Regions from separate parts of the Homo sapiens genome. Here regions 2 and 3 are each linked to region 1. Evidence: fine-mapped expression QTL. A gene starts in region 1. Each other region holds a variant in brackets. All regions are shown on one strand. Distances are between the middles of the regions. Region 1 holds the start of HPS5 (HPS5 biogenesis of lysosomal organelles complex 2 subunit 2). Region 2 has its middle 8.5 kb from the start of SAA1. Region 3 overlaps GTF2H1 (general transcription factor IIH subunit 1).

Region 1 (8,277 bases):
CAGGTACGGATTCTCAGGGCCCTCCATAAGCCTATCCCCCTGTATTATCTAACAGTGTGAGTAAACAGAATAGGTAGAGTAGGATTTAGGAAAATTGGCATATCACCCTGAGTTAAAACAGCAACCTTGCTGCTGCATTTCTATGAATACTAAATCTTCTGTCTTTAGGAGTCTCTCATTAAAACGCAATCTTCTGTAAAGGCCTCAACTTATTAACTGTTATCAGCAAACCCTACAGTTATCAGCTAACAATTTAACAGTGGTTTATAGGAATAGGCCACTAGACTTCTCTCTTCAACCGAGCAGGGGCTTAGTAAGTATGGTGAATGAATGAACAGATCTACTAAGTGAGAAGGTACAGGGAATTAGAGCACAAAGAAAAATAAGCGCTTCAACAAAAGAGACTAGATAGGACAGAATACGGATAAGAATACAAGGTAACAAATGCCAAATAACCAGTGAGGACTTTGTAAAGTAACACGAAAGTTTTTATGTGTTCACCTACTCTCAAATGCACTTTTTTGTCAACTTGCACCAATCTCCAGAAAAAAAGAAAAGAAAATTCTACTCATTAATTATAACTTTTCTCAATCACTTGTTACCTGCCAAATTTAGAAAGCCAATGAATACAACAGAAAAAGTCATGAACTGTTTATACATTCTTGTTGTTTGTTCATGCTTTACGTTTTTGACTTTTTTTCCAGAAACATATATATTCCATCACTCATTTATTCAACAAATTTGTACTGAGCACCCACCTACGTGCCAGACATTATTCTAGGTCCTGGAGATGATAAAGTTCTAACCCTCATAGAGCATACTTTCTAGTGGCAAAACGAAGACTATATTTTTTATTGCACACACATAACACAATCTTATTTTCTGCTAGTAACACTGTTCCTAATACACCTTGACCTCTGCAAGGAGAATGTTCAGGAAAAAAAAAAAGAAAAAACCCAGAAAGAAACTTTCACATGCCTGTACTCAAAATATTTGAGAATTATTGACCTAAGAAAATCTTCCCTCATTGTTTTCACTCATTCATTTCATTGAGTACCTAGTAAAGTACCAGGCACAGTGGTAAAAATAAGACAAGTAAAATAATTCCAGAAGTCAGTCAGTTTATAATACGGAGGAAAAGACAAATACCACACACACACACACACACACACACACACACACACACACATCTTATAAGGGAAACATAAGCAAACTGCTTTGTTAGAACTTTACAGGACAGAGGGATCACATTGAATTAAAGGGAACTGAAGAAAACGCTCTAAGGAAAGTAGTACTGATGCTGACTAGGCTTTTATCTCAAGGAAAAGGGAAAGGGTAGCAGGTAGGGTAGCAATAAGCAAATATATAGAGAAGAAAAAAATGCAGAATATACTAGAAGAATACAAATTTAGTCTTTGGTTGAAACAGGATACAAGCAACGGAATAATGAAAGATAAAGCTGGAATCTTAATTTGGGCCCAAGTTACAAAACACTTTGAATTTCAAACCAAAGAACCTGAACTTAACTTGGCAGGCAACAGAAAGGAATTGAAGAATTGTGTGTTGGGAGGTCACACAATTTCTGTAAAGTGCTGTGGGTGGTTAGATGCTAGAAAACAAAGACTTGAGAAAACGGGTGGGTGATATGAAAATGAGGATAAAACATTTCAATTACTCAAGAAGTCTGGTGGAAAAGGAGAAAACCTCTCTTGACGTTATTATTGGGGAGACTCTTCAACAGATTTGTAGGTAGTAGCTAAAAGTAGAGTCTAGAACGAAAGGGACTGAAGATTCAAGAAAAAGATAAAACCATGGTACAGGATCCAAGAGATGGAAAGGAATGATAATATCATAGTGTCTCTTCTACTTGTGATCTTGAAACAAAGAAACTCTGAGTAGGTCATTTTGCCTTAATCTCGGTAAAAAGAGAATGTCCTGGAAGTTATAATATAATGCGGGGGTGTGCAGGGGGACACACCTAGTAAGTTCTACTGAAAAGAAAAAAAGAATTTAACAGAAATGAGAATGGAAAATAAAAACAGCATAAGCAATGCCAATTCTCAGAGAAGCTGCTGAATGACAGTGTTAAACCAACTTCAACTTTATACTTTATGTTTACTCTCCCTGAAATGACTGCTTCCCTTCCAGATTTTCTTATCCAAACATACCCAGCTTTCAAGATCGCACATGAGCCCTACTTCCTAGAATTCTCAAGATGGAAAAAGATTCATAGGTAATTCAGTGAACATGTCCACCTAATTCAGAAATTAGTTTTGCCCTAGATCCCTGAACATTTTCAGCCATGGAAAGAAAGCACTCACTCTCATGAAGCTGCCAATTCCAGTCCTCCAAAGGGCTCACTATTATAAGGTTCTTTTTAATACTATGCTGAAGCCTGATCACTTAGAGCTCTACCATTATTCCTAATTGTATGTAGCTTCTACAGCTGAAGGGAACAAGCTGTCTCTTTCCAAAACAATCCTTCTGTATTTGAAAAGCATTATCAGGTCTTCTAAAAATTTAACATTCCCAGTTTCTTCATCACTCCTGACATGACATTTTCCAACCCTCTGTTCCAGTCAACCTTCTACAGAGGCACTGTAGTTTGCCTAAAAATGAGGTGCCTAGAACTGAGCATAATACTCCTTAAGTAGTTAGATGAGCCCAGAATAGAGTAGAAACACTAACTTCCTGGATCTAGACACTAAGTTTCTATATTACAACCTAAAAACAGTATTAGTTGTGTTTAAGTGGCCATGTTACACATTGATTCAACAGAGCAAGTGGTCAACTAAAACCCAAAGAAATTGTTTACATAAATAAAATCTTCTTAGCCAGTAGCTACATACAGTAGAACTGAGCTCAAATTGAAAGCTGCTATTAATCAAATGCAACAATGGATATAAAAAGTACCTAGAAATGTACAAACAGTATAAAGAGGAACAGCAGAATGCTGATAATTGTTCAAGTTGCGTTAAGTGTACATGAGGGTTCAATTTATTATCCTACTTTTGTCTGCGTTTGAAATTTTCCACAATAAAATTTAAAAAATATATACATAATATTGTACAAGCCTTCAACAGCTCTATTTCTTGAAAATCTGTTATCTCCTCCCTGCTTCTTTTTCCAGCCTTATTTCCCATCTTAACCTCTCTATTCTCCAACTACATTGGACTCGACTCTTTTTTTCTTTTTCATTCCATAAACTTGCTGTGCCTCCATGGTTTAATATATGATGTTTATGGAATCTTCCCCCATTTACCAAAACCCTACCTTTCTGCAAAGCTGAGTTTAAATGTTACTTCTGTGAAGGCACTCTACCAAAAACTAAGAACATAGAAGTTGGCGACAAATGCTTAACCAAAGTAAATGAAACAACTTTTGGGAGACTGGCTTGCCCAAGGATCACAGAGTTCATAAATGGTAGAGCTGAGATTAGAATACGCGTCTCCTGAATCCAAATCTCATCTTTCCATTATCGTAAAATAGTTCAGTGTTTGTTGCTCACACATCAAATGCAAACATGTTTCTCTTTTGCCCCAGTAGGTGCGTGGAGGAAGAGGAGAAAGAAGTAAGAAAGATAGCAAAAATTGAAGAAATGAGAAGGGGAAGTTGCAGACTGCCTCATTTTCACAATGGGATCTTTCTATCCAAGAAGAAATGATCAGAAAACAACTCTCTGCCTCAGACAAATGGCGACTGACTCATTTATACATTCATTCATTCAACATTCTGAGTGCCTACTATGTTCCAGGACCTGAACACACCGCTAGAGACACAGGGATGAACAAAACACAATCCCTACCCACAAAAAGCTCCTTGCCTAGTGGAACTACTACCTTTTTAACAGCAGTAACTTTAATATCTTGAGATTTCTTGAGAGGAGACCCAGTAACCAATTTTCAAAGCCAGGCTCACAGACCAGCAGCCCGGAGGTCCCAGCCCAGCTCCACCACATCCAGGGCAGTACCTCGCAGCTCTCAGTAGATCGGATCTTGTCTCCCGGCTTAGCGCCGGGGAACTCACCGCGCACTAAGAGCGGAACGTGAACTTCAGTCTCCCCTCGCGTTCCTCCCCTTCCTTGCTGACGTCATCCAGGAGAGCCGCAGACTGGAAACAACGCTACTAACGGCACTTCCTCATCACGTGACGAGTCACGCCCCTCCTTCCGCGTGGTCCCTCCCCCTCAGGCCGCGGTCGCGATTACGCTCTCTACGGCCTGCGACCGCAGGGCCGTTGCGGGCTGGAGACACGGCGCCGACTGGAACCGGAGGAGCTCTAGGCCAAATGGTTGGGCCAGCCAGGATCCCAGGACCCTTCGCCGCTCGAGACCGGAGAGAGGAAACGAAACAGGCGGGAACCCGTGGGGGAGGGAGGGAACTAGCGGAAGGTGTCATGGCGGCCGCGCTCTTGAGTCACGTGCCCAGGGCCCGCCTTGCTACTTCCGGTCACGTGCCCTCAGACTCCTCGCAGCCAGCGATGGAGGCGAGACCCCCTAGTAACAGAGGCGGTGGCTACTGCTGCGGCCACTGGGTTTCGGCCTCTTCCCAGCAGCGGCTCTAAGAAGCGCAGCGGAACTCGACCGGATCCAACCCAGTTAGTTACTTCCTGTCTAGAGTTGTAGCTTCCACCTGGTAAGTTTAGACCGAAGAATGCAGGCGGGCGGGTGGGTGGGCGGGTGAGGAGCTGACAGGCCTGGGGGCCGCTGGACGGCGTGGATTCTACCCCTGTTCCCAGCGTCGCTGTCGCCGTCCTCCCAACGCCCAAGCCTGGCGTCTTGTTTGCCCTTATCCCGAGGCGAGGAAGAGGCGACCCCTAATCTACTTGTCTAAAGGAAACCTGCTCTTAAATTGAGAGCAGGTTTACCCAAAGCCAGGATCAGATTTGGCTTATGAGAATGAAGTGGAGGCCTCTCCCAGACAGAGAAGCCCTTCCCGTCAGGAAATGTGCTGTTGAGTCTGGGATTCTGTAAGAGAAAAGCTGTCACCTTGTTGTCTGCACACCTTTTGCTTCCACCTGTCAATCTTACCTCTCTTAAAAACCTTAACACGTGCCAGTCCACACACTCCTAGTTTTGGTCATTTGATTGTCGTGTAATGATGAAAAATAGACCATGAGTACCTGGATATATGTAATTATTTTGTAAATCCCCCAGTGTTCTCAAAGGCCAAATTAAATAAGGAGGTGACTTTTCTTATTTTTTTTTAAGAGACAGAGTCTTGTTCTGTCGTCCTGGCTGGAATGCAGTGGCGTGATAATAGCTCACTGTAACCTCGAATTCCTGGGCTCAAGCGATTCTCCTGCCTAGACCTCCCAAAGCGCCAGAATTATGCTACAGTGCCTGGCCCCAAATGACTCCTAAACTCCAATTTTAGCATCAGTAAAATGGGGATGGGGAAAGAAGATATGAAAAATACACCCTTTGTCCATTTGAAGACCCAGTCTTAAAAACAAAAACAAAAAAAAAACTGAGTGGTTTGAATGAAATGTGCTTTGCAGTGAGTATTGACTCCATACAAACCAATATCCAGACTTGTGATTTTCAAACATTTTAAAGGAGTGGAACAATTTCTCCCCATGAATTTTTATCTGGAACCCAATATATAAAGCAGCATGCTCTGGTGGAACTAAATTTAAAAGGGCCAGGCCCCACCACCCCACTTAACTTCTATCCTAGAGGCCACTCCTTGGAACACAGTTTGAAAACCACTGAACTGGACTTAGGTAATTAAGCCAAAGTTGCCAACCTTAAGATTTTTTAAAAGACAAAACCAGAGCAGTTGAGATGGAGAGGTCACAACCGCAGGGAAGGTAACCTCTAGTAGCAGGCCTTGGACTTAGAGAAGGACTAAACTCTGGAGAGAACTTTGTACCTGTTAGCAGGCTTAAGTCCCTCATTCAGAAAGGAGAAAAAAGAGATGGTCTGCTATCCTCACTCAGCCGACATTTTTTTTTTTTTTTGAGACGGAGTTTTGCTCTTGTTGCCCAGGCTGGAGTGCAATGGCGCGATCTCTGCTCACTGCAACCTCCATCTACCGGGTTCAAGGGCTTCTCCTGCCTCAGCCTCCCCAGCGGCTGGGATCACAGGCGCACGCCACCATGCCTGGCTAATTTTTGTATTTTTGGTAGAGACGGGGTTTCACCATGTTGACCAGGCCATTCAGCCGACTTGTAGCAGTGCAACAGATTGGTAAGTTTGAGTCTCTCTTAGGTGATATAAAATACACATTGCAGTACAAATGTGAAAAAAAATCAAAGCAAATTCAGAGAGGGCTTTTGAAAAATACTAGGAAACTTGGTGCAGTGTGGGAGAAGAATCAGTTAAAAGTAGTGAAGCCAGCGACCAGCACCAGTCCTGGGTTGTGAATGCTTCCTGTGTGTACTGCCCTCAAGGCTTGTAACTTCTCCCTGCTGGTACCATGTGTCCTGCCCTCTGATAACCTGCTTCTCTGTGCTATTTTATTCCCTACCATCAGAATGTTGTCTGGCATACCTTGAGCTTTCCTAGCATTTTGGCCACCATTTATCTCTGCCTTATGCATACTGCTGATAGAGATGTCTTTGTGCCCTTCCTTTCTCTTTCCTGCCTTCAGTGTGGCAGTATCAGCCATTGACCTAGTAGTTCCTCTTTTCACCACTTTGATTACCAACTGATTACTCTTCTCTCAATTTTGGTAATATACTCTTGTCAGCATGCAGTATTTATTAATGGATATGAGCATATTTTCTTCTGTCATGCATCTCTGTCGCATTTTCCTCCTGCCTCTTCCCTGCACTGCTGTAAAATGTACAAGTGCTCAGTCCTAAAATTGCCACATCAGTTATTCTCCTTAATATCTTCCTTGTCTGTGAAATTATCCTTAAAACAGTACATTTTGGTCACTCTTTACATACTTATAAAGTTATTCCCTTTAATGCTGAATTGTTCAAACACTTTTGGATTGCTTGATGGCAAGCAGCATTCCAAATCTCCATTTTTGTATGCTGGCAGATATAACAGTGCTCTCTAGTAATCCTTCTTTCAGAAGATTTCTCTTTCACTTGTTGCTCCCTATCTCCTCTCCTCCATTTATCTCTTGCACATTGGAAAAGGGGATGTAGGTAATGGAAATGCAGAGGTGCAGTAATGTAAAGATTTGTATTCAACCAGTTCATATTCTTCCTTATCACTGTTGCCTTTTAAGAGCAAGATCCAGTTATTAGAATCTGTATGAGAAATGGTACATTGATCTGTGAATTGAAAACTATAGTGGTTCCCGGAGTTTAGGCAAAGATGTATATGCAAAGATTCCTTATTATGTCTTAGCAAGAGATTGTATTCTTTTAACAGCAAGATCTTAAATGATGTCATTGATACTTCTTGGACTCTTCTTATAGGCCAAACACTATATTACTGGGTGCTATATTACAGAGAACCCGACATATATGGCCTCTGCCCTCCCTTATGAAGCTTGCAATCTGTCAGGAGACGTGTACATTAAAAGAATCACATTAAAAATTATGTTGTTGTAAGTGCCATGAAGAAAATAATAGGAGACTTTAGCTGGTAACTTTGAAGCTTAACATAGACTGAAAAAAAAAATGAGTGAAAGTTAGCCAGTTGATGGGAAAGGAAGAGAATGTACAAAGGCTCAGAGCAAGGTATATGAATTTAGATTCGGACAAATACATTTTTAACTGCAAATAAATTAATGCCTTTAATATAGATCTTGCTATTTAAGGAAGTCTTAGACCATTTCATAAGTAAATAGTCTTTTAGTAAAGCGAGATCTTCATTGACCTGATCTGTTTAAATGTAGCCTACACCAATAACTTTCATAAATTTCTATGGCTCTTATAGAGTTCTCCTGGGAAGAAGTGTTTGCCACTCAAGGAATACACTCAAGAAAAACCTGGAAATCACAGAAGGCATTGTAAGATAGCTACAGTGATTCTGTTAAACCTCCTGAAATTGGTCCTTGAACAATTAAGAGGTGCTACAGATGACCAGGAAAATTTACCAGGCAAATTAGCTGTGAGACAATTGACCATTTGTGCCCAATGTTCGGTAATTTATCTCAGATTTATTTTTTAAATTTCCCCATAAATGAATTTTGATATAAATGGTTTTATATGTTATATATAAGAGGTTATGGCTGGGCGTGGTGGCTCACGCCTGTAATCCCAGCACTTTGGGAGGCTGAGGCAGGCAGATCACCCGAGGTCAGGAGTTTGAGACCAGCCTGGCCAACATGGCGAAACCCCATCTCTACCAAATGTAGAAAAATTAGCGAGGTG
Region 2 (8,277 bases), 64 kb before region 1:
TCTAGCAAATTAATCGAACCCAAAGAGGGGGTCATGGGAACCCCAACTTGAAGCCAGTCAGTCAGAAGTTCCAGAGGCCCAGACTTGCAACTGGGGAGAAAGAGGGGGAGGTCTTGGGGACTGAGCCCCCAACCTGTGGGATCTGACACTGTCTCCAGGTAGGTAGTGTTGGAACTGCATTGGAGGACACTCCTGGTGTCTGCTGCTTGGTGTGTGGGGGGAAAAACCCACACCTTTGGTTACGGAGGTCTTCTGTGTTGACGATCATTGCTGTTTGAGGGCAGAGGGAATACACGGTTTGAGAGAGTTTTTCCCTGACATGAGCGAACAGGGGACATGTACTGGTCTCTGAGATGGGGGATCATGGGATCTGCCACAAGTGGGGAGACCACTGTGACCCCTGCCACAGTCTTTGGGGCAGAGGGTGTCTCGGGGGCAGAAGAAGCGAGAGTTGTTTGCAGTAGCAGTTATGTCCAAAGTGGGCGCCAGGAAAGTAGGGCTGCCCAGCTTTGAAGAGCCTCCTTACTCCCAGCCTGAATGAAACCATTTCCTGTAAAGCGCTAAGCATAAAGTTTGCCAATGGTGATCCACGGAGAAGTGAGTGTACCCCACCCCGCCATCCCACAGGGAATGTCGGAGTGATGTTGATCTGCACCTAGGGAAGGAATGGTTCATGAGATGTGGTGGAGATGCTGAGGGCCCGTGGACATCAGATCCTACCCTACCTGTGCCAGGACAAGCCATGCGCATGTGCTTCAGACCACCAGGCAACAGGAGTGTTGCATGAGGTGTGAAGCAGGCACCTGGGAAAGAGGAGTGTGAACAGCAGATGGGACACACTGGGGGCAGTCATAGGAATGAAATGTCCCAGGATGGATGCAGGCAGGTTATGGAGGACTTAGTGAGGACTGCTCTCCTGGTGGGAATTGTGGAGTGGGAGACTGGATGGAGACTGGAGGTGTTTTAAGTAGGGAAGCCAACTTGCAAGGGTGACCAGGGAAACTATGTCGGCCAAGGGTGAGACATGCACTGGCAAGACTCTCAGACAGCCTGGCTTATCTAAGCAGAATGCTTGAGCCATGCCAACGGTGCCTCGCAAGTTGTATTAATCATGTCCTTTCATTTTGTGTTTTTGGTGCTTGGCATCTGGGCCCTTGCTGACCCTAAGGGACCATTTCTCTCAGAGCTAGTCAAGTCCTAGACACAGTAAATGACTCTCCTGGGAGCATGCCTTCCATGTGCAGACCAACCAATCAAGAGTCCACACTCCCACCCACCTCCTTTATCGAGCTCTCACATCCTGGGGCACCATCCACCTGCCCTAATCACTCAAGGACCACGTCCCAAACAACTAGGGACAGCCTCCATGCCCCTGCACCCATTGAAATTATTCATGCTAGCCAATCCTAAACCTGTGTATGCTGCCACACCATTCCTTCCTGCAGAAACACAGTAAGGACTCTTCCTACACCTCCCCTACTTCCTCTGCTCCCTGACTTACCCACTTACTTCCTGGTGCAGTCCCCTGTGGCATAGTTCACTCTCTTCTTTTGGGAACTGTGAGGCTATCTTCTCAATGGCAGTCATCTCCTGAGCTGTTGGCCTTGCCATACCTAACTAATAATAAAATCTATATTCTAAGGTAAAAACAAAACAGATAGGGTCTCACTCTGTTGCCCAGGCTGGAGTACAGTGGTGTGATCATGACTCACTGCAGCCTCAAACTCCTGGGCTCAAGCAGTTCTCTCATCTCAACCTCCCGAGTAGCTGGGACTACAGGCACACACCACCATGCCTGGCTAGTTTTCTTATTTTTTTTGTAGATACAGGGTCTTGTTATGTTGCCAAGGCTGGTCTTGAACTCCTGGGCTCAAGTGATCCTCCTGCCTTGGCCTCCCAAACTGCTGCAATTACAGGCATGAGCCACCATGCCCAGATCAGAAATCTTACTAAAAATATTTCAAGGAGAAGAGAAAGCCAAAGATGTTGAATATATATATATGTGTGTGTGTGTGTGTGTATATATATGTATATATGTGTATATATGTGTGTATATATATATGTATATATGTATATATATATGTATATATGTATATATATATGTATATTGGGGCAGGCGTGGTGGCTCATGCCTGTGGTCCTAACTACTTGAGAGTCTGAGGTGGGAGGATTGCTTGAGCCTGGGAGATCGAGGCTGCTGTGAGCTGAGACTACACCACTGCACTCCAGCTTGGGTGACAGAGTGAGACCCTGTCTCCAAAAAAACAAAAAGAAAAAGAAAAAAAGATGGAAAAAGACATGAAAAAACAACAACAGAAATACCCACACATCATCAATGGGAGGGAAGCATCTTGAGGCAGCAAAGCGGGAGTGCTAGTAGAGAGGCAGATAGGGCGTTGGACCTGAGGCATTAAGGAAAGTCAGGATTTGGAGCTTACAAGTCTCTCATTGGAGATGGGATGGGGTTGGAATGAATGTCTGAGCAAACACAAAGCATTTCCTTCCCTAATGACTCCCCACCAGTCTAAAGAATCCCACATTAGGTCGAACACGGTGGCTCACGCCTGTAATCCCAGCACTTTGGGAGGCCAAGGCGGGTGGATCACGAGGTCAGGAGATCGAGACCATCTTGGCTAACATGGTGAAACCCCGTCTCTACTAAAAATACAAAAAAATTAGCCGGGCGTCATGGTGGGCGCCTGTAGTCCCAGCTACTCGGGAGGCTGAGGCAGGAGAATGGTGTGAACCCGGGAGGCAGAACTTGCAGTGAGCCTAGATCGCGCCACTGCACTCCAGCCTGGGGGACAAAACGAGACTCTGTCTCAAAAAAAAAAAAAAAAATTCCCACATTAGAGTTGGGGAAATGGGCAGTCCTGGTGGAAGTTAGGGAACAGATCTGGGACACGTTATAGCCAGCTGGACTACAGGAGGCCATAAGCTCAATTCTTCCTTGACTCTGAAACCTTCCACTGGTCCTAATGCCTAGTAATTCCAGGCCTTTCCCAGTTGTGCCAGGCTTGGAGGTGAACACATCTATGTGCCAAGAAGGAAAGGTATGCCAAGCAGGGGCTTAAGTCATCCTTATCCTCAGTCTGTCTATGAGTGGTATGTACCCCTGTTCCCCTTGCAAGATCTGCTGGGCTTAGGTCTCCTGGCTGTGAGTTCCCCATACCTGGGCATAAATGTAGTGAGCCTGAGCTCCCAAATAAGGTTGGGGGCTCCAGAGAGGTGGAGAGCCCTGTGTCTGGGAAGTGTGCCCACCCAGCAGGTCTGACCAGGAAGATACACTGCTAGGGTTATGGAAAAAGACTATGTGTCAAGGTCTCTTGATTCTCCATCTAGGCAGAGAATCATCTTTAATTAATGGGAAACTGGAAGGCAAATTACTTGGACCTGAAATTACTTTTTGTTTATTGAACCACTGTGTTGTAAATCACATCTCTCTGAAGGCAAGAGAAATCAGGGAGTTACAAAATGTTTAGGAGAACTAAACAGGACTCCCTGTTTTGCTAACTAATCAGATTGAGACAGGCTCTCTGGTAAATCTACAAATTTGATGTTGTTCAACCATAAGCAGTAAATTTCCTATGCTGGATTTTCCTGACAATGAATGTAAAAGGAAAAGGAGTCTTTTTGACAAAATATTTTATTGTTCATCTAAACTGAAAAACTTCTCTATTTTTCAAAATTGCTATACGTGTTTAAAGATGTAGATATTTGAATAGCCTAACTGGTACAGAAGGTTTAATGATGATTCCTAAGACATACCTATAAATTACTTGAAATTGAAACGAAATTTAAGAAGAATTATTGGAATTTTCCCCTTCTCAAATGAGTTCTTAGTTTCATAAATACTATACAAGTCCATAAGAGATTTGGGGTTTTGAGATGT[CT/C]TTTTTTTTTTTTTTTTTTCAGACGGAGTTTCACTGTTGTTGCCTAGGCTGGAGTGCAATGGCGTGACCTCAGCTCACTACAACCTCCACCTCCCAGGTTCAAGCGATTTTCCTGCCTCAGCCTCCCAAGTAGCTGGGATTACAGGGACCTGCCACAACGCCAAGCTAATGTTTTGTATTTTTAGTAGAGATGGGGTTCACCATGTTGGCCAGGCTTGTCTGGAACTCCTGACCTCAGGTGATCCACCCGCCTATAATTTATTACTCCCTTTTGCAAATGTTTGAAAAGGAATAAAGTGCAATATTTTTAAACAGAATGCAGAGTTCTGTTGTCCTTTGGCAATACCAGTTTCAGACTCTGAGAGTGGCTCTTGCTGTTGCCGACAGTGGGCTGATGACCAAATCCCAACATGCCCCCGCTGCGAGTCCTTCATAACCTGATTCAGTCATCACTTAGAGGCCAGCAGGCTTCAGGGAGGCGTGAGCCTCAGCCAACAACCTATAGGGGAAGAGACGCAGAACTCAATGCAGACAGGTTTGGATTCTGGTGCCTAGAGAATGCAACTTGGAAACTCTGAGCCAGGAGAAAAGGGTTCTCTCTCCATGAGAGAGTGTGGGCTTTGTGAGAAGCGACACACAGCAAACACAATTAAGAGTCCACCCCTCAGCGGGGCGCAGGGGCTCACGCCTGTAATCCCAGCACTTTGGGAGGCCGAGGCGGGTGGATCACGAGGTCAGGAGATCAAGACCATCCTGGCTAACACAGTGAAACCCTGTCTCTACTAAAAATACAAAAAAATTAGCCGGGCGTGGTGGCGGGCGCCTGTGGTCCCAGCTACTCGGGAGGCTGAGGCAGGAGAATGGTGTGAACCCGGGAGGTGGAGCTTGCAGTGAGCCGAGATCGCGCCACTGCACTCCAGCCTGGGCGACAGAGCGAGACTCCATCTCAAAAAAAAAAAGAAAAAGAAAAAGAAAAAGAGTCCGCCCCTGAATTAAATAGTTGGTCCTTTTGTGTTCCTGGTGATTCACTTGCTAAGTGGAAGAAACAGGAGGGAATCTTTTCTCCTGCCCTCCTGGTAATCCATAGCCCATGGCCTGGCTTTACTTCTGTAAAGTGGCAGGAGACCTTTTGACAGCTGAGCCATTTCTTATTTTATTTATTTTAATAAGAGATGGTAGGAATGAGCAATGATATTAGTACCTGGGGACTGTTGTTCTTAAGGAGAAACAATCTTAGAATGATTAGTGATACCCCTTGCTTTCTCTTTTCTTTCATTATACTTTTTGTACACATATTTTTCCCATTTATTTATTGGAATCTTACTGATTTATTATAAGTATAAGCTTTATGTCTACACATGTATAATCATTTTTCCCCAAGTATAAGTCTCTTTTTCATGGAGGCACAGCCTAGACCTGGTTAGCCGCCATCTCCCCTCATTGTATGCCCAATATCTATTGTAGTATCTGCTGCATAGAAGGCACTCGATGCGTGAATGGATAATGACTGATGATGAATCAATAAATAAATGGACATGTCATTGTAAAAAATTCTAAAAATCTAGAATAACACAAGCTGTTGGCACTACCTAGAAACACAGATGTAAAACTTCCTAGGTTGTGTTTCACCATGGGAACATGTCTTTGAACAAAAATGGGATCATATTCTATTGCACTCTTTCCCTTAAGAGATACTTCTCCAGGTCATTAAGTGCTCTTCCACAATATCAGTATATGGCAGAGGCAAGGTCATACCAGGTCTGTCTGAAACCAGGGCTTGGCTCTTAACTTGCAGCCATACTGCCTCCAAGTCTAGGTGGCTGGGTTTTAGGATCTGTAATGGGAACTCAGTGTCACAACCTCTACTGGGAAGGTATTCTGGTGTTGCATAACAGGACTTTCTGTTAGAGATAACCATGGCAAAATGGAATAGAGACAAAGTTCAGGTTTCTGCTGCCAGGAGCTGAGATTGCTGTGACCAATGGCATTCTCCCAAACCAAATAATCCAACCTGGAATTACCATAAACCACTCCTCATCTTTTCAAGGGGTGTCCAAGTTCCCAGAAAAGAACATTTGTTAAGGGATGGAGGCAAGGAGGTGGAGAAGAAAGAGCACTGGCCAAGGTATCATGAGTGTCCTGGGTTCTGGTCCTTGAATAAGCCATTTATCTTCTCTGCAGCTTCTCCATCTGATAGGAGTTTGGAGGCAGAGTTTTTTCTTAATGAGCAAAAGACAGTCGTGCCTAGGAGATGTGGTGTACATGTTAGAAAGAAGGGACTGGCTGTGACTCTATAAAAGATGAATTCATACAAAAACAAATTACCCTTTCCCAGGGAGAAAGTTTGGATCCAGTAATTAGAGATCTCAAAAAGTAGAAGACCTGCCCTGTGAGGCCTGTGGCCTCCAAGTTTGAATGCTGTGTGTCAGCTTTAAAAACTAGTTTCTTGCTGATAAATGTTTCATATTAAGCATGTGTTGAGAGTACTCCTTGCCTACCTTCACTAGCCACTGTTTCCTTCCCCTCCTCCCTTGTCCCTTCATTCTCTCCAGAACTTTCTGCTAACTTCCATTCTCTTCAGGACTTCAGCATGGTTGGGAGAAGATCAGAAAGGCATCCTCACTGTTTTTATTTTAGTCCACTTGACCTTTGGGGAGTAGTTCCACTGGCTCATAAGTATCAGCCCCCCATAGCACAGCACCCCACACTGAGCCCGGAAGCAATAAAGAATCCCAATCTGCTGTCACTAACCAGCACGCTCAACTGCCATGCCCTTTACTCTTCTCATCTCCCTGCTTTCACGTCACACCAACTAATTTCTCTATGAGTCAGCCTCAACTCTCCCAACACTCTGCCCACCCTTCTTCTACTACCTTCCAGTGAGCTCCTCGAAAGAAGGGTCTGCGGTGAGGATGCCCCTTTATCTCTGCCTATTTCCTTCCCATTACAAAAACTTGAAACCTGCCTTTCCCATGTTGATTTCACTTTATTCTCATCTTTACCCATGGGGTATGCCTCCTGCAATTCCTCCTAGACAATAGAATGAGAAAGAGGGGTCCTCGTCCTCTTTGCTTTCCATGACCATTTCTCCATTCTTCACCTCTGTGATGTGTCCTCTTTGAAGTCCCTGATAAATTCATTACCACCTTCTCTCCAGTCTTACTAATGTTATCTGCACAAGTGATTTCCAAACAGGAAGATTTTCAAACACTGATTCCTGAAGATCACCCCCAACTCGCTGAACTGAGACCAAGACCTCCAAGATTATGGCTTAGGAATCTGCATTTTTTTTTTTTTTTTGAGACAAGAGTCTCGCTCTGTTGCCAGGCTAGAGTGCAATGGTGGAATCATAGCTCATTGTAACCTCAAACTCCTGGGCTCAAGTGATCTTCCTGCCTCAGCCTCCCAAGTAGTGAGGACAACAGGAGTGTGCCACCATGCCCAGCTAATTGTTAATTTTTTGTAGAAATGGAGTCTCACTATGTTGCTCGGGCTGGTCTCAAACTCCTGACCTTAACCCATCCTCCGCCTCCGCCCCCAAAAGTGTTGGGATTACAGGTGTGAGCCACCGTGCCCAGCCTAGAAATACCCACTAGAAGCTTCTGTGTAGACAATCTGCTTAGTGATGTTTGGAGACAAAGTACCTCTTTATTGTATTCATTGACAAAACTCTCCAGTCCTCTCCCATCTTCATGGAAAATTTTCACAGTTCATTTACGGCCCTCTTTCCAACACATTCACTGCCAATACTCTTATTGACAATAACTGTATTGTTGAACCTTCCAGTATCCTGCATTCCCGGATCAAGGCCCCCTCAAAGCCCTGATATGCAAATATCTGGGAAAAGAATGTTCCAGAGGAAAGGAACAGCTAATCCGAGGCCCCTAGGGTAAGATGTGCCTGGGGGTTTGGAGACCAGTGTGGCCAGAGCAAAATGAGCAGGAGGAGAGAATTGGATGATGAGGTACGAGAGGAAGGAGTTAGGACAGTTTGAGTAAAGTTTGAAAACCATTATAAGGGCTTTGACTTCAACTATGAGTGGAAGTGGAATCCTCCGGAGAGTTTTGAATGGAGAGTGATAGAAGTTGTCTTGTGTTGTAACAGTCTGGCTGCTATACTGAAAAGAGACTAGTTGGCGGCAAAGGGGGAAATGTGGAAGCCAGTTAAGAAGCCATCATAACCCAGAAGGTGATGCCTAATAACATCTCTCTGGGAGCAGCGGAGAGATGATAAGGGTTTGCCTTCTGAATATGTTTTTTGACAATTAATGTAAACATTTCAAGTAGGCTGAGATTTTATTGCATATTAACAATGTCCATGTTCACTCGCGGCAGCCGCCCCCTTCTGCGCGGTCATGCCGAGCCAGCACCTGGGCCTGGAACTG
Region 3 (8,000 bases), 36 kb after region 1:
ATATCAGGAGGCAAATGATTTGTATATATCCTAGCTTGTGATATTAAATTTTTTCACTTGGTTAAAGGTAGTATTTGCCTGGTTTCTCCACCAAAAAGTTAACTATTTTTCCCTTTGTAATTAATACATATCTTGTGGAGCTGTACTTTGAGACTATATAAATACCCCATTTGTCACCAAATTTTTTATTTTTATTTTTTAATATTATTATCTTTAGAGACAGGGTCTTGCTCTGATGCCCAGGCTGTAGTGCAGTGGCACAGTCATAGCTCCGTTCAACCTCAGACTCCTAGACTCAAGCAATCCTCCTGCCTCAGCCTTCTGAGTAGCTGGGATTATAGGCATGTGTCACCACACAACAAACTTACATCTGGTAGTTTTTTTAGAATCACTGATGATTCTTGCCTGGAAGAGCAGTTGTTAAATGATGATTTTCTAATTCCATCAGCCCTTCTATGTATATCAGCTGACATGAAAGGAAGAGCATTCCCTTCTCCTCTGTTTGTTATTTATATCAGCATGGATTCATTTATGAGTTAAACACTGTTGCTATCTTTTTTTCTTTGTTTCTTTTTGTTTTTGTTTTTGTTTTTGAGATGGGGTCTCACTCTGTCACCCAGGCTGAAGTGCAGTGGCATGATCTCGGCCCACTGCAACCTCCACCTCCCTGGCTCAAGCGATCCTCCCACCTCAGCCCCCCAAGTAGCTGAAACCACAGGCACTCACCACCATGCCTGGCAAAGTTTTTGTATTTTTGGTAGAGACAGGGTTTTGCCATGTTGCCCAGGCTGGTCTTTAACTCCTGAGCTCAAGCAATCCACTCGCCTCGGCCTCCCAAAGTGCTGAGATTACAGGCCGTTTTTTTCTTTTTCCTTTTTTTTAAAATTTTTTTAATTTTTCTTTATTTTTTTTTTATTTTTATTTTGTGAGACGGAGTCTTGCTCTGTTGCCCAGGCTGGAGTGCAGTGGCATGATCCCCACTCACTGCAAGCTCCGCCTCCCAGGTTCACGCCATTCTCCTGCCTCAGCCTCTGGAGTAGCTGGGACTATAGGCGCCCGCCACCACGCCTGGCTAATTTTTTTGTATTTTTAGTAGCAACGGGGTTTCACCGTGTTAGCCAGGATGGTCTCGATCTCCTGACCTCGTGATCCACCCGCCTCAGCCTCCCAAAGTGCTGGGATTACAGGCGTGAGCCACCACGCCCAGCCTTTTTTCTTTTTATTAACCAAGGTACAACTTAACATACAGTAAAATAAATAAATAAATTTACTTATTTATTTATTTATTTCGAGACAGGGTCTCACTTTGTCCCCCAGGCTGGAGTGTAGTGGCACAATCTCGGCTCACTGCAGCCTTGACTTCCCAGGTTCAAGCAATCCTCTCACCTCAGCCCTCCAAGTAACTAAGTAGCTGGGACTCCAGGCATGTGTCACCATCCCTGGCTAATTTTTATATTTTTGTGTGTAGACAGGGTTTCACCACGTTGCCCAGGCTGGTCTCGAACTCCTGAGCTCAAGCGATCCACCTGCCTCAGCCTCCCAAAATGAAATTTATCTTTTTAAGTCTGCTATTCTACAAGTTTTGATAAACACATGCTGTTGTGTAGCCACCAACAAAATCAAGATTTTAAAAAACCGGTTCTGTCACCCCAGAAAGTCTACCCATGCCCCTTTACAGTCAAACCCTTCCTACCCACTTCACACAGGCTCTCCTGTGTCTTTCTGACAATATCCCCGTCATTCTTAGCCCCTCCTTACTGAATGGTATAGTAAGATAGATGTTCCAGGCTTATCTTACATCTGCCCTGTCCCAGGCGTGGAATTTTCTTTTTAGCACTGAGTGGATCAAGGTAGGAACCAAGATCTGGGACCGGGCACAGTGACTCACACCTATAGTCCCAGCACTTTGGGAGGCCGAGGCACGCAGATCACTTGAGAGCTCTAGACCACCCTGGCCAACATGGCAAAACCCCGTCTCTACCAAAAATACAAAAATTAACTGGGTATGGTGGTGCGTACCTGTAGTCTCAGCTACTCGGGAGGCTGAGGCAGAAGAATTGCTTGAGCCTGGGAGGCGGAGGTTGCAGTGAGCCGAGATCGCACCACTGCACTCCAGCCTGGGCAATAGAGTGAGACTCTGTCTCAAAAAAAAAAAAAAAAAAAAATCTGGGCACTAGGTATACATTGGGGTGTCATTGTCCCTTCAGCAGAAAGCTAGAAAATACATATGTGTACATAAATGCACACATAACCAACCTGGGATTATTTGACCAATTCTTTCAATGTAGACTATAGTTGTCCAGTATCTGGCCCTTGGGCCCGAGTAGACCCACATAACTTTTGTCTTGGGGGTGGTGGTGTTTGTTTGATTTAGAGGTGAGGTTTCTGTCACCCAGACTGGAGTGCAGTAGCACTATCATAGCTTACTGCAACCTTGAACTCCTGGGCTCAGGCGATGCTCCCACCTCAGCCTCCTGAGTCACTAGGATTATAATTGTAAGCCACCATGCCCAGCTCTCCCCATGTAATTTTTTTACACTGTAGTCAATCTTTGTTTTTTTTTTTTTTTTTTTGCAGTCAGGGTCTTGCTTTGTTGCCCAGGCTGGAGTGCAGTGACACCATCTCAGCTCACTGCAGCCTCAACTTCCCCAGGCTCAAATGATCTTCTCATCTCAGCCTCCCAAGTAGCTAGGACTACAGGCATGCACCACCATGCCCAACTAATTTTTTTGTATTTTTTGTAGAGACAGGGTTTCACCATATTGCCCAGGCTGGTATCTGACAAAAGGAAAATAGGAATAAAGTGAGCTCCAATGTCCCCTTCACTCATGGTTGTCCCATACTGTACTTTTACACTAAGTTGAAAAAATGTTTTCATCCAATCTATACATGGATGGATTTCTACTCATAAAAACTTCATTGGAAAATCTTAGAGATGCTAACCCTGCACTTGCTGTTTCACAAATTATTTGTTCCTCCCTATAGCAGTGCCTCCCTACAGTACCTGGCACTTGATAGGCACTCATCGAATAGATAGGTCAATTTTTTCCTAAATGTTGATGTTGATACAGTGGGGAGTATATTTTTCCCCCTTTTGGCTATATTTATTCACTTCCTTGAAAATTAAATGACAGTTAATAAATTTCTGCTCTTTATTTTTTTTTCCCCCACTCTGTTATCAAGGGTATATGTTAGCAAAGCCAGGTGCGGAGTACACACCTGTAGTCTGTCCCAGCTACTCAGGAGGCTGAGGGAGGAGGATTGCTTGAGCCCAGGAGTTCAAGTTCAGCCTGGGCAACATAACAAGATTTTGTTTCTTAGAAAAATAAATTTAACAGAAACAAAGGATACAGGTTAACATGTTGTTTTACCTGTTTTCTTTCCTTAAACTCAATTTTACCTTCAGTGGTAAGAGTTCTCATATTAAATTGAATTGGTACTTAAGAAAGGGCTTTAACTAGGCAAAACCTTGGGAGTTTTGAGGTCCCTGTGGACTTGCCTGGCATGCCTGGGAGATTTGTAGGTATCTTCTTTCTACACGGATTGTGTTTCTGCCCTCAAGGAAAATAGTTCACTTTGACCACTGTAAATGATGTAGTATTTAAACAAAAG[GA/G]AAAGCACTTCATTGTCTGCTCTAAAACTAAAATGTTAAGAAAGAGAGGTGGCAAAAAAAAAAAAGGGAGGAAAACCAGTTTTAATGCATCTTCATTTTTTTCAGGTTCTCTCAAGTAGTGCTGCCAGTAGTACCATCACAGCACTGTCACCTGGAGGGGCACTTATGCAGGGAGGAACACAGCAAGCCATAAACCGTATGTGCCGGGCCATCTTCTACTACTTTCTGCCTAAATCAGCTTTAAAAAGCAAGCTGGGAGGAGTGCTGAACTTTTATTGGTTTTTCCTTGGAATAATCCTGGGATTTCTATTTTGTAGATTTGTTTTTATACATTCAGATTCTGAAACACATCTAGACAAGATCTTAGGTTTCAGAACCGTCTTACTATTACAAATAGTGGTACATTGCTAGTTTCTCTAATATCATAGTAAAAGCTCCTTTCTTCTCCCCTACCTCTTAGAATAAAGGGGAAACCTGAAAGTTTCTTTGAAATCCCAAGAGCTTTTAAATTTTATGATCTCTCAGCCACAAAATTACTAACTTATCTGAAAATAGCACATCCTGGTTTGGCATTGACAAAGAGTACACATTCAAATTTATTCTCTGAGTGGTCATTTTTTTCGAGACTGTATATGTTAAAATAGCTCTTAACCTATGGGCCTTGTTCTTCTTTTGCAGAGATGGTGCCAAATGATATTCAATCTGAATTGAAACACTTATATGTAGCTGTTGGAGAACTTCTACGACATTTCTGGTCCTGCTTTCCTGTTAATACGCCATTCCTAGAAGAAAAGGTTAGAACCAGTTCTGAAGACAGCCAGATAATTGTGGTAGTGACTTACAAGAAGTTTTGAAATTGGAAAGTTTTATTGAGTCTTACCATGTGACAGACACTGGGATAACTCTTTTGCATACATCGTTTCATGTAAACCTCACAGCATCTTTATGGAGTAGCTATTGGTACCCATTTTATAGATTTGGAAACTGAGATCCAGACGAGTTCCATAACTAATAATCATACAACTTAAAACTTGTATCTACCTCCAAGCCACTGTGAATAGAGACCCAAAACAAATTACATCAATAAAGTTATTTATATTTGATACGTTTTTCAGGGATAACAAAATCCAAAATAAGAACTGACAACAAATATAGCACTAGCTTTTTAACACTAAAACCGCTTTAACCAATTAAAGGACAGTTGACAAATGAAAAATGTAACATTAATAGTAATACTATAAATTGCTTTCATAAACTATGATTAAGTAAAAGATAAAGACCTCATTAAGCACAATAGGCAAACACTTTACAAGCAACTCACTAAAGAATGGAGTGGCCTAGGAAGATTAAGGGGAAATGCTCACACTTACCAGTATGCAGATAAATTACAGCTACAGTAAAAGAACATTTTGGCCAAGCACGGTGGCTCACACCTGTAATCCCAACACTTTGGCGGGGCTGAGGCGGGAGAATTGTTTGAGCCCAGGAGTTGGAGACCAGCCTGGACAACATAGCAAGACTCTGTCTCCAAAAAATACATAAATAAATTTTTTAAAAGAATATTTTTTTCACCTACTAATTTGCAGAAGAACAAAAATCTTAAAATGATCAATGTTGACCAAGTAGCCAAGAGTCCTTTCTTCCACTGCTAGTGTTTTTTTAGATGCTTTTACTTCAGCATTCAAATGAAACTTCAAATGAAATTCAACATTTAGAAATTTAGGAAATAATTAGGAATGCAAATACTTAGCTAGAGATGGTCTACCACTCTCTAAGATAGAGGAAATGGCCTAAATATCTACCAGAAGGGGGTTGGTTAGAGAAGCATTTGGTATATTCATACGTTGAAAGACAATAATTATTTTATTTTATTTTATTTATTGAGTCAGGGTCTCACGCTGTCACCCAGGCTGGAGTGCAGTGGAGTGATCTCTGCTCACTGCAGCCGCTACCTTCTGGGCTGAGGTGATTCTCCCACCTCAGCCTCTCTAGTAGCTGGGACTACAGGCATGAGCCACTAAACCGGGCACTTTGGGAGGCCAAGGCAGGCAGATCGCTTGAGCTCAGGAGTTTGAGACCAACTTGGGCAACATGGCAGAACTCCGTCTCTACAAAAATTATGAAAAGTAGCTCAGGTGATCACCTGAGCCTAGAGAGGTCAAAGCTGCAGTGAGCCATGATGTTGCCACTGCACTCCAGCCTGGGTGACAGAATGAGACCCTGTCTCTAAATGAATGAATAAATGAATGAGTGACTATTTAAATGAGTTGGGATTTTTTGTTGTTTTTGTTTTTTGAGATGGAGTCTCACTCTGTCGGCAGGCTGGAGTGCAGTGGTGTGATCTCAGTTCACTGCAGCCTCCACCTCCTGGGTTCAACCAATTTTCCTGCCTCAGCCTCCTGAGTAGCTGGGACTACAGGCGTGTGCCACCACGCCCAGCTAATTTTTGTATTTTTAGCGGAGACGGGGTTTCACCATGTTAGCCAGGATGGTCTCAATCTCTTGTCCTTGTGTTCCGCCCACCTCGGCCTCCCAAAGTGCTGGGATTACAGGCGTGAGCCACCACGTCTGGCCAAATGAGTATTTATGACTGAAAGATATTCACATTGAAGGGTTAACAATGTGATATAATTGGTATATTTTTATTTTATTTTTACATTTAAAAAAATTCTACAAGAAAAGTAACTTTCATATGTAGAAGATTGTTTTTCTGTTGGTCTCTACAGCTTGAGATTTCTCTGTAATTTATTGTTTCTCATCTTTTTTAGGTAGTGAAAATGAAAAGTAATTTGGAACGATTCCAAGTTACGAAGCTCTGTCCATTCCAAGAAAAGATTCGGAGACAGTATTTAAGCACAAATGTAAGGCAGCAATCTGATTTTTGCCTGATCTTCTTTCTCTTTGTAGTAAAATGATGAAATTGATTTTGCTTTCATGTAAATGAGTAGATACTTAATTTTCTTTTTTTTTTTTTTTTGAAACGGAGTCTCACTCTGTCGCCCAGGCTGGAGTACAGTGGCTCCATCTCAGCTCACTGCAACCTCTACCTCCTGGGTTCAAGCGATTCTCCTGCCTCAGCCTTCTGAGTAGCTGAGATTACAAGCGCATGCTGCCACGCCCAGCTAATTTTTGTATTTTAGTAGAGACGGGGTTTCACCATGTTGGCCAGGCTGGTCTCAAACTCGACCTCAGGTAATCAGCCCACCTTGGCCTCCCAAAGTGCTAGGATTACAGGCATGAGCCACTGCACCCGGCCAATACTTTATTTTCTGTTGCTCAAAGTACTGTTTTTTAATATTGAAATGTGTCATGCATTCAGAAGTATATAAAATACATACATATTTTTTAAATAATAAAATAACTGTCTGTTTACTCACCAATCAGGAAAATTAGTAGAATGTTGCCATAACCCATAGATATTCCCTGAGTGCCCCTGTCCAGTTGCATACCACTCTCTCTTCCCCTCCAGAGGTCATGACTAACCAAAGCATTTGTGATAACCATCTCCATGCTTTCCCTTAGAAAAGTTTTACAATCTGGCCGGGTGCGGTGGCTCATGCCTGTAATCCCAGCACATTGAGAGGCCAAGGCAGGCTGATCACTTGAGGTCAGGAGTTCCGAGACCAGTTCTGGCCAACATGGCGAAACCCTGTCTCTACTAAAAATACAAAAATTAGCCTGGCATGGTGGCGCATGCCTGTAGTCCCAGCTACTCGGGAGGCTGAGACAGGAGAATTGCTTGAACCTGGGAGACAGGGGTTGCGGTGAGCCGAGGTCATGCCACCGCACTCCAGCCTGGGTGACACAGTGAGACTCTGTCTCAAAAAGTTTTACAATCTATGTGTATGTTCTGAAAAATACATATTACTAATTTATTAATTTGGAAAAACTGAGTAGCAAGCACAAACCTAGCAGCGTAAGGAAAGATAGAATTGCCACTACTCATAGTAAGCAAAACTGTTCCTGGGTTCTATTTGGCATCAGCTTCCCTGATTGTTTACAGTGGGGAAAGTCAGTGGATGAGGTATTGAGAAGTGTCACTTTATGCCCAGCATTTTTAGCATTGTATTTAAAACAAGGTTAGAGCAACCACATCAGATCATTTGTATGTGCAGTTATACAAGCCCTCCCAGAGGTACCTTGGAAAGAATAGTACAGTCACGTGTTGCTTAACCACAGGGATGTGTTCTAAACAATTCATTGACAGACAGTTTTGTTGTATGAACCTCACAGAGTGTACTTAAAACCTAGCTATATAGCCTACTATACTTCTAGGCTATATGGTGTAGCCTGTTGCTCCTAGGCTACAAACCTGTACAGCATAGTACTGTACTAAATACTGTAAACAGTTTTAACACAATGGTATGTGTGTATCTAAACATAGAAA

Evidence for each region. PIP is the estimated chance that this variant, and not a neighbour inherited with it, causes the effect.
Region 2: its variant is fine-mapped to the expression of HPS5 in skeletal muscle (FUSION, PIP 0.95).
Region 3: its variant is fine-mapped to the expression of HPS5 in whole blood (TOPMed, PIP above 0.99).

Annotation. Positions count from the first base shown.
Region 1 is chr11:18,318,107-18,326,383 of GRCh38, forward strand. HPS5 (HPS5 biogenesis of lysosomal organelles complex 2 subunit 2) reads right to left here and starts at 4,034. Exons shown (of 23, transcript NM_181507.2): 1 at 3,840-4,034. It overlaps GTF2H1 (general transcription factor IIH subunit 1), which reads left to right and starts at 4,461. Exons shown (of 15, transcript NM_005316.4): 1 at 4,461-4,634. RefSeq lists enhancers at 3,532-4,481, 3,619-4,818, 3,709-4,008, 4,019-4,438.
Region 2 is chr11:18,253,668-18,261,944 of GRCh38, forward strand. It overlaps the pseudogene ST13P5. Among named protein-coding and RNA genes, the nearest start is that of SAA1, 8.5 kb to the right of the region's middle. The variant CT/C (reference allele first, on the strand shown) is at 3,893.
Region 3 is chr11:18,354,234-18,362,233 of GRCh38, forward strand. It overlaps GTF2H1 (general transcription factor IIH subunit 1), which reads left to right. Exons shown (of 15, transcript NM_005316.4): 12 at 3,719-3,809; 13 at 4,292-4,407; 14 at 6,382-6,474. Among named protein-coding and RNA genes, the nearest start is that of MIR3159, 30 kb to the right of the region's middle. The variant GA/G (reference allele first, on the strand shown) is at 3,613.